Homo sapiens: one gene and its partners. The protein of the gene in region 3 interacts with the protein of the main gene of each other region in a biochemical or structural test. Each region holds a gene or a part of one and is shown on either strand. Other genes may lie near its edges. The genes, in order: ITGA4, PTPRH and PXN.

What was found.
Region 1: the proteins of PXN (region 3) and ITGA4 form a complex in vitro, tested with the Homo sapiens proteins (2 studies listed by BioGRID).
Region 2: the proteins of PXN (region 3) and PTPRH form a complex in vitro, tested with the Homo sapiens proteins (one study listed by BioGRID).

What each region holds. Positions count from the first base shown.
Region 1 is NC_000002.12:181,523,339-181,527,088, reverse strand, and holds part of ITGA4 (integrin alpha-4 isoform 1 preproprotein), read right to left. Parts: intron 3,653-3,750; coding exon 3,557-3,652; intron 2,919-3,556; coding exon 2,839-2,918; intron 1,888-2,838; coding exon 1,798-1,887; intron 1-1,797. UniProt on the Homo sapiens protein: Integrins alpha-4/beta-1 (VLA-4) and alpha-4/beta-7 are receptors for fibronectin. They recognize one or more domains within the alternatively spliced CS-1 and CS-5 regions of fibronectin. They are also receptors for VCAM1.
Region 2 is NC_000019.10:55,188,890-55,192,639, forward strand, and holds part of PTPRH (receptor-type tyrosine-protein phosphatase H isoform 1 precursor), read right to left. Parts: intron 2,853-3,750; coding exon 2,774-2,852; intron 2,660-2,773; coding exon 2,612-2,659; intron 1-2,611. UniProt on the Homo sapiens protein: Protein phosphatase that may contribute to contact inhibition of cell growth and motility by mediating the dephosphorylation of focal adhesion-associated substrates and thus negatively regulating integrin-promoted signaling processes.
Region 3 is NC_000012.12:120,210,065-120,213,814, reverse strand, and holds the end of PXN (paxillin), read left to right. Parts: intron 1-986; exon of another isoform or gene 987-1,180; coding exon of another isoform or gene 1,181-1,213; exon of another isoform or gene 1,214-1,234; coding exon 1,235-1,501; 3' UTR 1,502-3,368; downstream 3,369-3,750. UniProt on the Homo sapiens protein: Cytoskeletal protein involved in actin-membrane attachment at sites of cell adhesion to the extracellular matrix (focal adhesion). Recruits other proteins such as TRIM15 to focal adhesion.

The DNA of each region.
Region 1 (3,750 bases), on a different chromosome or scaffold from region 3:
CGAGGAGGGCGCATCACCTGAGGTCAGGAGTTTGAGGGCAGCCTGGCCAACGTGGTGAAACCCAATCTCTACTAAAAATACAAAAAAAAATTAGCTGGGCGTGGTGGCGTGTGCCTGTAGTACCAGCTACTCGGGAGGCTGAGGCAGGAGAATCGCTTGAACCCGAGAAGCAGAGGTTGCAGTGAGCTGAGGTCACACCGCTGCCCTCCAGCATGGGCAATAGAGCGAGACTCTTAAAAAAAAAAAAAAAAAAAAAAAAAAAAAAAAGGCCATGTGCTCTGACCTGGGTGACAATATCTGTCCCTCACCGATATTCTTTTCTTGCTTTCCATGACACTACACCTTTTTCATTCTACTGACCATTCCTTCTCTTTCAGCCCTTAAGTGATTCATGTAAATTTGGCAAATGTAATGTGGGATAACTTCTTAGTTTTTTCCTAAGGTTCTCATACCTCAATTTATGTTACCCATTTTTGAATTATTTCTTCCCATCTCATGATCCCTGCTGGCTACTTATAATGAACCCCAAATCTGGGGAACAAGTCTAACATTATTAAGTATGATAAATTTTTTGTTACAATACAAGGCTGTCACTCTCTTTTAAAGGCCTGTGATTTGACATTTTTATCTGCAATAAACTCTAAGAAATATGTTTCTAGGGAGATCTCTACTCCATAAGGTGCTCACATTTGGCAGCTAATATTAGGTAATACCAAATTAGAAACTCATGAAACAGGAAAGTAACCAGCATAGATTTAGGCAGTTTAACAGGTGAACATACCTTGTTCAAAATAATGAGATGTGAATAACAGAAAAATAGGAAGACACTCATCATAAGCCAGGAGGAGTGGCAAGATAAACACTGAAAACCAGGAAACACGCAATGAACTTTTTATTTGCTTACTCGTGATTCTCTAGGTCTTACTCTCCTGTGAATGGCCTTTTTTCACCCGTTTGCTTTATCTCAAACTTGATACTCAATTCCATCAGACACTGACATTTTACATTTACATGACTGTATATCACCTTTCTAAGTGGATAAGATGACTGCGGGATGGTTTAGATTTAGAGCAACAGGAAAGGCTCATCTGTCTATTTGTTCTGTAACTCATATCTTCTACTGCATAAAAATGTAGTTTTAAGGACTAACACCATGAATAAGTTCTAGTGGAATTACTGAAGGTTTCCGTAAGCCCCCTTTTATTCTTTCTCCACACATCTCCTTCTTGAATGAGAGGGGGATCCACTCAATCATTAAAATCATGAGGAAGCAATGAATTCTGATACTGTGGTTGAGGAATCTGGTGATCCCATAGGTATAAAAAGTGGACAAGGGACACCTTGCAGCCAGATCTCTCACATCTCAATCCATTTGCCACATGTGTAGATACGGGTCTGCAGAATAGTGATTTGACTAAGTTCACACTTCTCTGAACTTCACACTTGACATGGGCATTAAGTATGATTATGCAGACTGCATACTGCCTAATTCCAGATTAGGATTACACAGTGCACAGCTGAAAGGCTCAGTGTGGCCTTGCTAGCTTGTTGGGGCTCTCACAGTAAGAAATCTCCTCCAGCTGGGTACTAGTTTGATGTAGTATCAGTGATGATTATAGAGTGGATTATTATAATGGACAGCTAAGTAAGGGACTATAACAATGAGGTAATTATTAAAAGATAGAGTATCCTTTTTATTTTAAAAAAATTCTAGAATACAGTTTTTTCATTAATGTAAGAAGCAAGGAAACTGTAAATCAGCTCTAAATTTGAAAGGAAGCCTTTATGTCTACTTACCCATGAACAGTCAGCTTAACCTCATATTTTAAAGGTATTGCTACAGTCACTCTGCTGTGCTTTAGATTGTCCATTTCCTCTTCATTTTCACTATACAAACAGAAAACACCCTGTTAGAATTCACCAAGCAGAAAAATCTTCAGAGAGAACTAATTACATACCCTGTATACCTAATATACTCAGAGGTTTGCTTAAATGCTTTTTGAGGAGTGGGGATAAAAGTAGATATGGTAGTAAAAATTTTTTAGGACAAGGTTGGCAGAAAATTTCTCTCATTATTTAAACTGTTATCATTTGCTTCTAATGCTAGATAGAGGAATTTTTTTTTTTTTAACAAATAGTTACATTTATTAGATTAAAAGATTTTTTAACATTTATGTTCTAGGTGGTACAAAAACCAGAATAAATAGGTAGTTTAGAAACAAATCTATTACTCTCTTTAGGTTGAAGAAGTATTTTTGCAAGACTTAATGATCAAAGAAAGCACATCAATCATATAATTTTTTAAACTGTATAGCAAGTCATGTACTGCCTTAACGTATCTTTATAATCAGTTTTACTTATAGAGATTTTTAGGATGAGAGGGTGACCAAGTTGTTGTGTTAGGTAAAATGAAGTCCATCTTGACGTTTATTCTGAATTTTAAAAAATATATTGAAACTTCACTCATGAAATAGTCATTAACGATTTCCTATTTACTCTAGGAGACATATCTATGGAAGTCATTACCCTCACTTTTAAATCTTGTAGAGTTATTACTTGTAAACTGTTTATTCTGTTTTTGATTTCAAATACACAGTTTGATTCGTGACACATCATGTCTACTCTAATCTAATCTAATAAATACTTAACATAGCTCAAGAGCTAAAACATTGCCAGTAACTCCCATTTAACTATGTTGTTTGGTTCTTTTAAAAGCATACCACGTAAGAGAAGTTTTCTCTTACAATTAATGGAACACAGTTTTACGGTTCTCCTAATTCCCCCCCCTCAGAATATGGGGGTATATTTCTAGTTCATTTTATTAACAATAAATTATACCAGGTAGCATGCACTGTGATACTGAGGTCCTCTTCCGCTCTGCTGAGTGAGCTCACATCCAGGAGAAAGCTAATATCTATCTGTAAAACACAGACCAGGAAAGCCCATTAAAAAAAATCTTAAGTACATTTTTTATAATCTGAATTTTTTTCTTAAAAGTTTATGTTCTATGGAATGTAGAATTGAACCATTGTAAAGGCATCAGCTACTCCTCCCTTGGCAATAAGATTCAGGGAAGTTGTTGGGTTTGTGGCTATTTTAAAGTACACACATATCCACACGTAACATTCAGAGACAAAGACGTCTCTGAATGTGAACGCAGGCAAGTCTAGACAAAATTAGAAATGCTTTCACAACTTGAGTGGAGACTCTTGCCAAAAACACCTTTTTGTATAGCAGAGGTAACATGCCTGGCAGACAGGACCACCTGCGGTGGGGGTGGGGGTTTTCGGGAAGGGTGTGTAGGGGGAGCAGAATTCTGATTGACACATGCACATGCCCATTTCGATGTAAACATGCCACCCCCTTTAAAACAGCAAACATTGCCAAGAATATAAACACAAAGCTCAAAGATTTCAAGAACCAGTTTTATTTCATCACTCAGCTACCTACCCCAAGCTAAAATATTTATAATATTTTCTATGCAACCTAAAGATAGGGAAGAATAGAAAAAAATATTCATGATAGTGAACAAAAGCCATAAATATGAAACACTTACCCTTGAGAGATGATCTACATATATATAGCCAATACTGCAGTCAAGTTGTACCACGCCAGAGTTATCTGTGACTTCACAGTTTATTTGCTTCTCTTCCTAATGGGAAAAATGAAACAACTGTTTTGGACAGGAAGGAAATAAAAAGTTTGTAACATATGTTTAAGGATGGTTATTGAAAAGAATATCATCCCAGA
Region 2 (3,750 bases), on a different chromosome or scaffold from region 3:
GTAACTGTTCCCCAGTGTCCAACCCCAAGCCACTTTTCTTGCTGGACGCACACTTCTTACAGGGTTTGGCCCATTCCTGTAGTTTCACTTTCTTTCTTTTTCTTTTCCTTTTCCGAGAAAGAGTCTCATCCTGTCGCCCAGGTTGGAGTGCAGTGGTGTGATCTCAGCTCACTGCAACCTCAGCCTCTGGAGCTCAAGTGATTCTCCTGCCTCTGCCTCCTGCGTAGCTGGGATTACAGGTGCCAGCCACCATGCCCGGCTAATTTTTGTATTTTTAGTAGAAACGGGGTTTTGCCATGTTGATCAGGCTGGTCTCGAACTCCTGACCTCAAGTGATCCTCCCGCCTCGGCCTCCCAAAGTGCTGGGATTACAGGCGTGAGCCACCACGCCTGGCCTCTTGTCTGGATTATTACAAATCTCTTCCACATGTTAGACTTCTTCCTAAACATGTTAGACTGTGTCACTAGCCTATTCAAAATCTCCCAAGAACTCTCAGCTCACAATAAATCCAAAGTCCTAACTTTCAACTACAGGCCTGTGCCTGCTGTGGCCCCACTGACGTCTCTCTGACCTCACTTCCCACTGCCCTCCCCTTCCTCACTCTGCTCAGTCGGAGACGCACGATGTTCTCTGAACCTCACGTGTGCTGTTGCCTCAGGCCCTCCACGCGCCCATCCCTGTCCTGGGAGCGCCTTTCCCAGATGCATGCTCGGCTCCTCTCCCACTTGCGTAGGCCTGTACTCAGATGACTTCCTCTTAGTCATCTTGTTAGCAAAGCTTTCCTTGAATATCCTGCCGAAAATATTCCTGCTGGGTGCAGCGGCTCACGCCTGTGATGCAAACACTTTGGGAGGCCGAGGTGGAAGGGCTGCTTGGGGCCAGAAGTTCAAGACCAGCCTGGGCAACCTGGTAAGACCACCCCCCCGACCTCCATCTCTACAAAAAATTAAAAAATTAGCCAGGCATTGTGGTGCGTGCCTGTGGTCCCAGCTACTGGGGAGGCTGAGATGGGAGGGTCACTTGAGCCCAGGAGGTCGAGGCTGCAGTGAGCTATGATTGCGCCACTGCACTCCAGCCTGGGCCACAGAGTGAGACCCTGTCTTGACAAATTAATAAATAAAATAAAATAAAATAAAATAATTCATCTGATTTTCTCTCTAATTTATTCTAATTTTCACATTAGAAGAATATCAAAATAGGCCAGGGGCTGTGGCTCACGCCGGTAATCCCAGCACTCTGGGAGGCCGAGGCAGGTGGATCACAAGGTCAGGAGTTCAAGACCAGCCTGGCCAACATAGTGAAACACTGTCTCTACTAAAAAATACAAAAATTAGCTGGGCGTGGTGGTGCATGCCTGTATTCCCAGCTACTCGGGAGGCTGAGGCAGTAGAATTGCTTGAACCCGGGAGGCGGAGGTTGCGGTGAGCCGAGATCATGCCACTGCACTTCAGCCTGGGTGACAGAGCAAGACTCCACCTCAAAAAAAAAAAAAAAGAATATCACAATATTCCTCTACCCTTCCTATCCCCTCCTTTTGCCTTGTCTCCAAGTTTATTTATATATTTTATATATTATAAATTTATATATTATATATTATATAATTTATATATTATATTATATATAATGTATATTTTATATTGTATAATATATATAATATATAATATATTATATATATAACATATAATATATTATATATTATAAATTTATATATTATATATTATATATATTATAAATTATATATATATATAATTTTTTTTTGAGACAGAGTCTCACTCTGTTGCCCAGGCTGGAGTGCAATGGTGCAATCTCAGCTCACTGCAACCTCTGCTCCCGGGTTCAAGTGATTCTCCTGCCCCAGCCACCTGCGTAGCTGGGATTACAGGCGTGAGCCACCATGCCTGGCCCTGTCTGAAAGTTTATATCATATTTTTTATGATCTTTTTTAATTTTTTATTACTATTATTTTTTTGAGACGGAGTCTCGATCTGTCACCCAGGCTGCAGTGCAGTGGCGTGATCTCAACTCACTGCAAGCTCTACCTCCCAGGTTCACGCCATTCTCCTGCCTCAGCCTCCCAAGTAGCTGGGACTATAGGTGCCCGCCACCAAGCCTGGCTAATTTTTTGTATTTTTTAGTGGAGACAGGGTTTCACCACGTTAGCCAGGATGGTCTTGATCTCCTGACCTTGTGGTCTGCCTGCCTCAGCTTCCCAAAGTGCTGGGATTACAGGCATGAGCCACCGCACCCAGCAATCTTGTTTATTGATATCTCCTGTACTAGAATATAAGCCCCTGGCGGGCAAGAATCTTGGTTTCATTTGCTGTTTGTTTGGCACCTGGAACAGTGCCTGATACATGCTGGTGCTCAGCTGATATCTGCTGAATGAATGAATGTCCGGGAGTTGAGACCAGAACTGAATTCGCTGGCCCAGGCTGCTTGGGGAGTGAGTCACGATGGAAGGGCCGTGGTCCCTGTCGCAGAGGCATGGGCCCCTTCTGAGACCTTTGTGGGTAAATGCATTGATCCACCCTCTGACCTAGCTGGCAGCCAGCAAACACCCCTTGATTTGACCAGATTCTTTCCAATGCACCCCCCAGACCTTCTGCTCACCTAAAGACCAGATCCCTGAGTTCTGGTTTCTGCTGCTTCTTCTTATTCCTGGGAAAAGGACGTTAGGATGAGAGGCTCAGGGGGTGAGGCTGCAACCAGCGGTCCTCCTCCTTCTTCTCCAGCCCCCACCCTCCAGGCGGTCAGCCCTGTGCTGAGTCTCACCTCCTCTTCAGGAAGAAAATCAGCAGGCCCACGAGGATGAGAAACAGGAGGATGCCCACAAAGGCTCCGGCAATGACCCCTGTGGGGAGGAGGCATCGGGAACCCTCAGAGCGCAGGTCTGAGCTGCTCATCTGTCTCCAACCCTGCCCAGCCTTTCCTCTTCCCCAGGAGCCTGGTCCAAAGACAGCTGACCCCCGAACATCACACGGTGTGAATTGCGTCGGTCCAGTTATACTTACGCGCTTACCCATGGATTTTCCTCCACCCCTGAGACAGCAAGACCAGCCCCTCTCCTACCTCCTCCTCCTCCTCCGCCTACTCAACGCGAAGACTACAAGGAGGAAGACCTTTATGATGATCTACTTAATAAATAGCGAGTACATTTTCTCTTCCTTAGGATATTCTTAGTAACATTTTTTTCTTTAGCTACTTGATTATAAGAATACAGCATATAGTACGGCCGGGCGCGGTGGCTTACGCCTGTAATCCCAGCACTTTGGGAGGCGGAGATGGGCACATCACGAGGTCAGGAGATCGAGACCATCCTGGTTAACACGGTGAAACCCCATCTCCACTAAAAATACAAAAAATTAGCAGGGCGTGGTGGTGGGCGCCTGTAGTCCCAGCTACTCGGGAGGCTGAGGCAGGAGAATGGCGTGAACCCGGGAGGTGGAGCTTGCAGTGAGCCCAGATCACACTACTGCACTCCAGCCTGGGTAACAGAGCAAGACTCTGTCTCAAAAACAAACAAACAAACAAAAAGAATACAGTATGTAGTACATATTACAGATGAAATGTATGTTGTTTATGTTATTGGTAAGGCTTCCAATCAAGAGTAGGCTATTAGTAGTTAAGTTTTGGGGGAGTCAAAAGTTATGTGCAGATTTTTTTTTCTTTTTCTTTTTCTGAGACAGAGTCTTGCTCTGTCACCCAGGCTGCAGTGCAGTGGTGCGACCTCGGCTCACTGCAACCTCTGC
Region 3 (3,750 bases):
GGGCGAGGAGCAGGCAGTGGGGAGAGAGGGGTCTTCCTCATTGTGCTGTCTGGATCCAACTCAGAGGCCTCATTTGGGGTTATTAATTGGGGGAGCAGGCAGGGGATCTCCTTCCTCCAGTCCAGTAGGTCCTGGGCCAGGGTTTGTACTGAGGCTGGGACAAACCAGGAGCAAGGTAGACATGTCCCCCAGTCCAGCCCTGTGCAGCGGCCCTGGGCCATTCCTATTTGGGAGGAGAGTGTGTGAGAACTAAATGAGATAATGCAAGTATTTAGCAGACTCAACAGAAATGGGCAGTGGTTTCCAAAACCACTGCATTCTGGGGGCCCCACAGGGGTTATTAATGATTCAACAAGGGCTCTCTGACCAAATGAGTTTGGGAAACACTGTTCCCTGCAGGACTTCTCAGAGCCTTTTCTTTTCTTTTCTTTTTTTGAGACGGAGTCTCACTCTGTTGCCCAGACTGGTGTGCAGTGGCACGATCTTGGCTGACTGCAACCTCTGCCTGCTGAGTTCCAGTGATTCTCCCGCCTCAGCCTCCCAAGTAGCTGAGATTACAGGCACACGCCCCCATGCCTGGCTAATTTTTTGTATTTTCAGTAGAGACGGGGTTTCACCATGTTGGCCAAGCTGGTCTTGAACTCCTGACCTCAGGTGATCCGCCTCCCTTGGCCTCCCAAAGTGCTGGGATTACAAGTGTGAGCCACCTCACCCGGCCCCTCTCAGAGCCTTTTCTACCTATATGTGATGTGAATCTCCAATGAGAATCTAGGAGGCAGAGTTTGACTACAGACCAGTGTCACACCTGTGTTTCTGGGAACACTGTTACAGCCACCTGGCTAAGTGCTCAGGAGTCAGACCTGTGTATGAATCCAGGCTGTGACCTCAGTAGCTGCATGACCCTGGGCAAGTTACTTCACCTGTGTGCTTCAGTTGCCTCCCCTGTTGGGAGAACTAAATAATCCCAGCCCTGTGGGAGGCCGAGGTGGGAGGATTGCAGGAGGCCACATTTGACCAGCATGGGCAATATAGTGAGACCCCCATCTCTACAAAAAAAATTTATTTAATAAAATAAAAATGAAAAATGAGCGTTTAGGACAACACGGCACATGGGAAACGCCTAGCAAGTAGGAGTCACTCCGAGCGTGCCGACTATGCCCACCTCGGCCCCATCACACAGGGTGCAGCTCTAGCCCGAGGGGCAGCTCCCTGAGCCCCTCTCTCCGCCTGGCAGGAATGCTTCACGCCATTCGTGAACGGCAGCTTCTTCGAGCACGACGGGCAGCCCTACTGTGAGGTGCACTACCACGAGCGGCGCGGCTCGCTGTGTTCTGGCTGCCAGAAGCCCATCACCGGCCGCTGCATCACCGCCATGGCCAAGAAGTTCCACCCCGAGCACTTCGTCTGTGCCTTCTGCCTCAAGCAGCTCAACAAGGGCACCTTCAAGGAGCAGAACGACAAGCCTTACTGTCAGAACTGCTTCCTCAAGCTCTTCTGCTAGGTGCCCTGCCCCTGTCTCTGCCCCCCTTCCCCAGCCAGCATCCCCAACTGCGACTGTGACCTAGAGACTTCACCCGGGGGTGAAGGGGTAAACCCGACTGAAACTGGAACCCTTGTCCTCCGCTGGTGCGGGATGGACAGAGGGCCGTGAGGGGTCCCCCTGCTTGTCTTCACCCCTGCCAGAGCCTCTGGGCCCCCTCCTCCCTCCTGTAGCTCTCCCTAGGCTGCCCACTCTCCATCCTCCCCAGGGGTAGAGGCTGGGGGCTCCACCCCAGCCCATGTACGTCCCCACGAACTGGCCTGGCCAGCACCCCACACTGGAGCCATCTCTTCCTCATATTTCAGCAGTGCAGCCGGGGGGCAGGGAAGGGCAGGCAGGGTCTGTTGGGGTCTCTTTTTATCCTTATTCCTCCCCCGACCTAATTGTCTTTGTTCTGTGATTATTGGGGGACACCCGGCTCCCTCCAGACAATGCCAGCATAAATCCATCCATCCAAAGGCAGAGAACCAAAGGGGCCATGGAAGGTTCTCTGTGCTCCTCCTACCCTTCCAGTGCCCTAGGCCTGGCGACTGCCCCTGCCTTTTAGACCCGCCCTCCCCTTTTATACCTGCTCTTGTTCTACTGAGAAAAGCCTCTCCAGCAATAATGTTTTCTAGTCACTTCCTCCGTCTCCGGGACGGCGTGCCTGGACACTGTACCGACTTTGATAGATTTCTACACTGAGGTTTGAATTCATATCGCCTGAGTTGCTTTTACTTCTCTATACAAAATGATTTTGAAGAGATTTTAAAGACGTTCCCTTTTGTATTCTCTTCCTCATCCACCGCCACTGGGCCTGTCACTGATGGTGGCTCTGGTGTGAAGTTTGCTTTGTACTGAGGGTTGGGGTGGGGAAGCAATTTGTATTTTATTGTTTCTTAGCACAAGCAGGTGAACTGGGAGCAGCTCTGTGACTCCCCCTCTTTCACTTCATAGCTCACCAGGACTGTTTTATAAACTGCTGTATTTGGAAACCCCTTCTTTACTTCCCAGGCCAGCAAGCTCTTCACTGAAACTGGTTGAAGGGTGTTGCACCCTTTTGGGCCTAGAATTCTGAACTTTATCTGTTCTGTTTCTGTGGGAGGAGAAGGGGAAGTATGTTTTGGGGGGCTGCTTCCTGTCTGAGTAAGCCCTCAGGAGCCTCTGCTCCCCTGTGAACCCACTGAACCTTCTGAGCCCCCACTGCTTCTATGGGGCTCTCTCTTCTGCCTTCTCAGGAAAGCTGGTGTCTGATTTTGGCCATCAGGACTCTGACGTCTCTTTGGTCTTGTTGATTTCCTCTGGGCATATCCCTTCCCCAGATCTGCTCCTCCCCTTTCACAGGTGGGATCGGCACTCAGGGGGTCTGGAAAGAAGGTCATAAGGGAGCATGATAGGATTTGGGGCAGAGGGACAGGCTCCTCTGGGGAAACCCCCCAGAGCTCTTTACCAAGGATGAAAGAGGAGCCAGGCCTTGGGCTCCTGATGAGGAGAAAGGGGCCCCACCGGGGTCTAATGGTGACAGTCCAAACCACTCCACTGGCCTCCTGGCAGAAGCCGAGTGTGCTGGGGTCTCCGAAGAGGGTCCCTCCTTTTTGGGGGAAGGTCAGCCCAGCCCCTCCAAAGGTCTGATGTCTCCACTTTCACCCGCAGGCCTTACCGCTCTGTTTATAGTGACCCACCCTAGATCTTCCCCAAGAGGGACTGGGGTTTCTGGGGTCCATTCTCTGAGTCAGTGGTTATTTGAAAATTTGATTTTGATTTTATTTTTTCTCTGTAAACTTCCAAGCTGGCTTTTCCCATTTCAATTCCTGTGATTTATGCCAATAAAGTTTGCCCATGATTTTCACCTGTGCTAGTGCTATTTCTTGGTGGTCTGAACCTCATGGTCCCAGCAGAGACCAAACCCACCCCAGATGCAGCTGGATCACCAGATGGAGGGTAAATTGTGGATGTTTCCTTTCTTGAGGTCAAAATCCCTGGGGCTGGGGTCCGTGGTCCTTGCCTGTGGTCACAGGTCCTCCCCGTGGGCTTTGCTCCTGCCTGGGCAGTTGGTGAGGACAGGCTGGGGAGCAGCGGGATGGGGCCCTGTGGGGCAGGGCCTGCCCAGGGTGTGATCACCTGGGTTTACCAAGGGCATCCTCACTCACGGGCTTGTGGGTGGCTTTCCACTCATTTAGAAGTAGGGAAAGAGGCTCTAGGACAAGAACCTACATGTACAAGGCAATCTG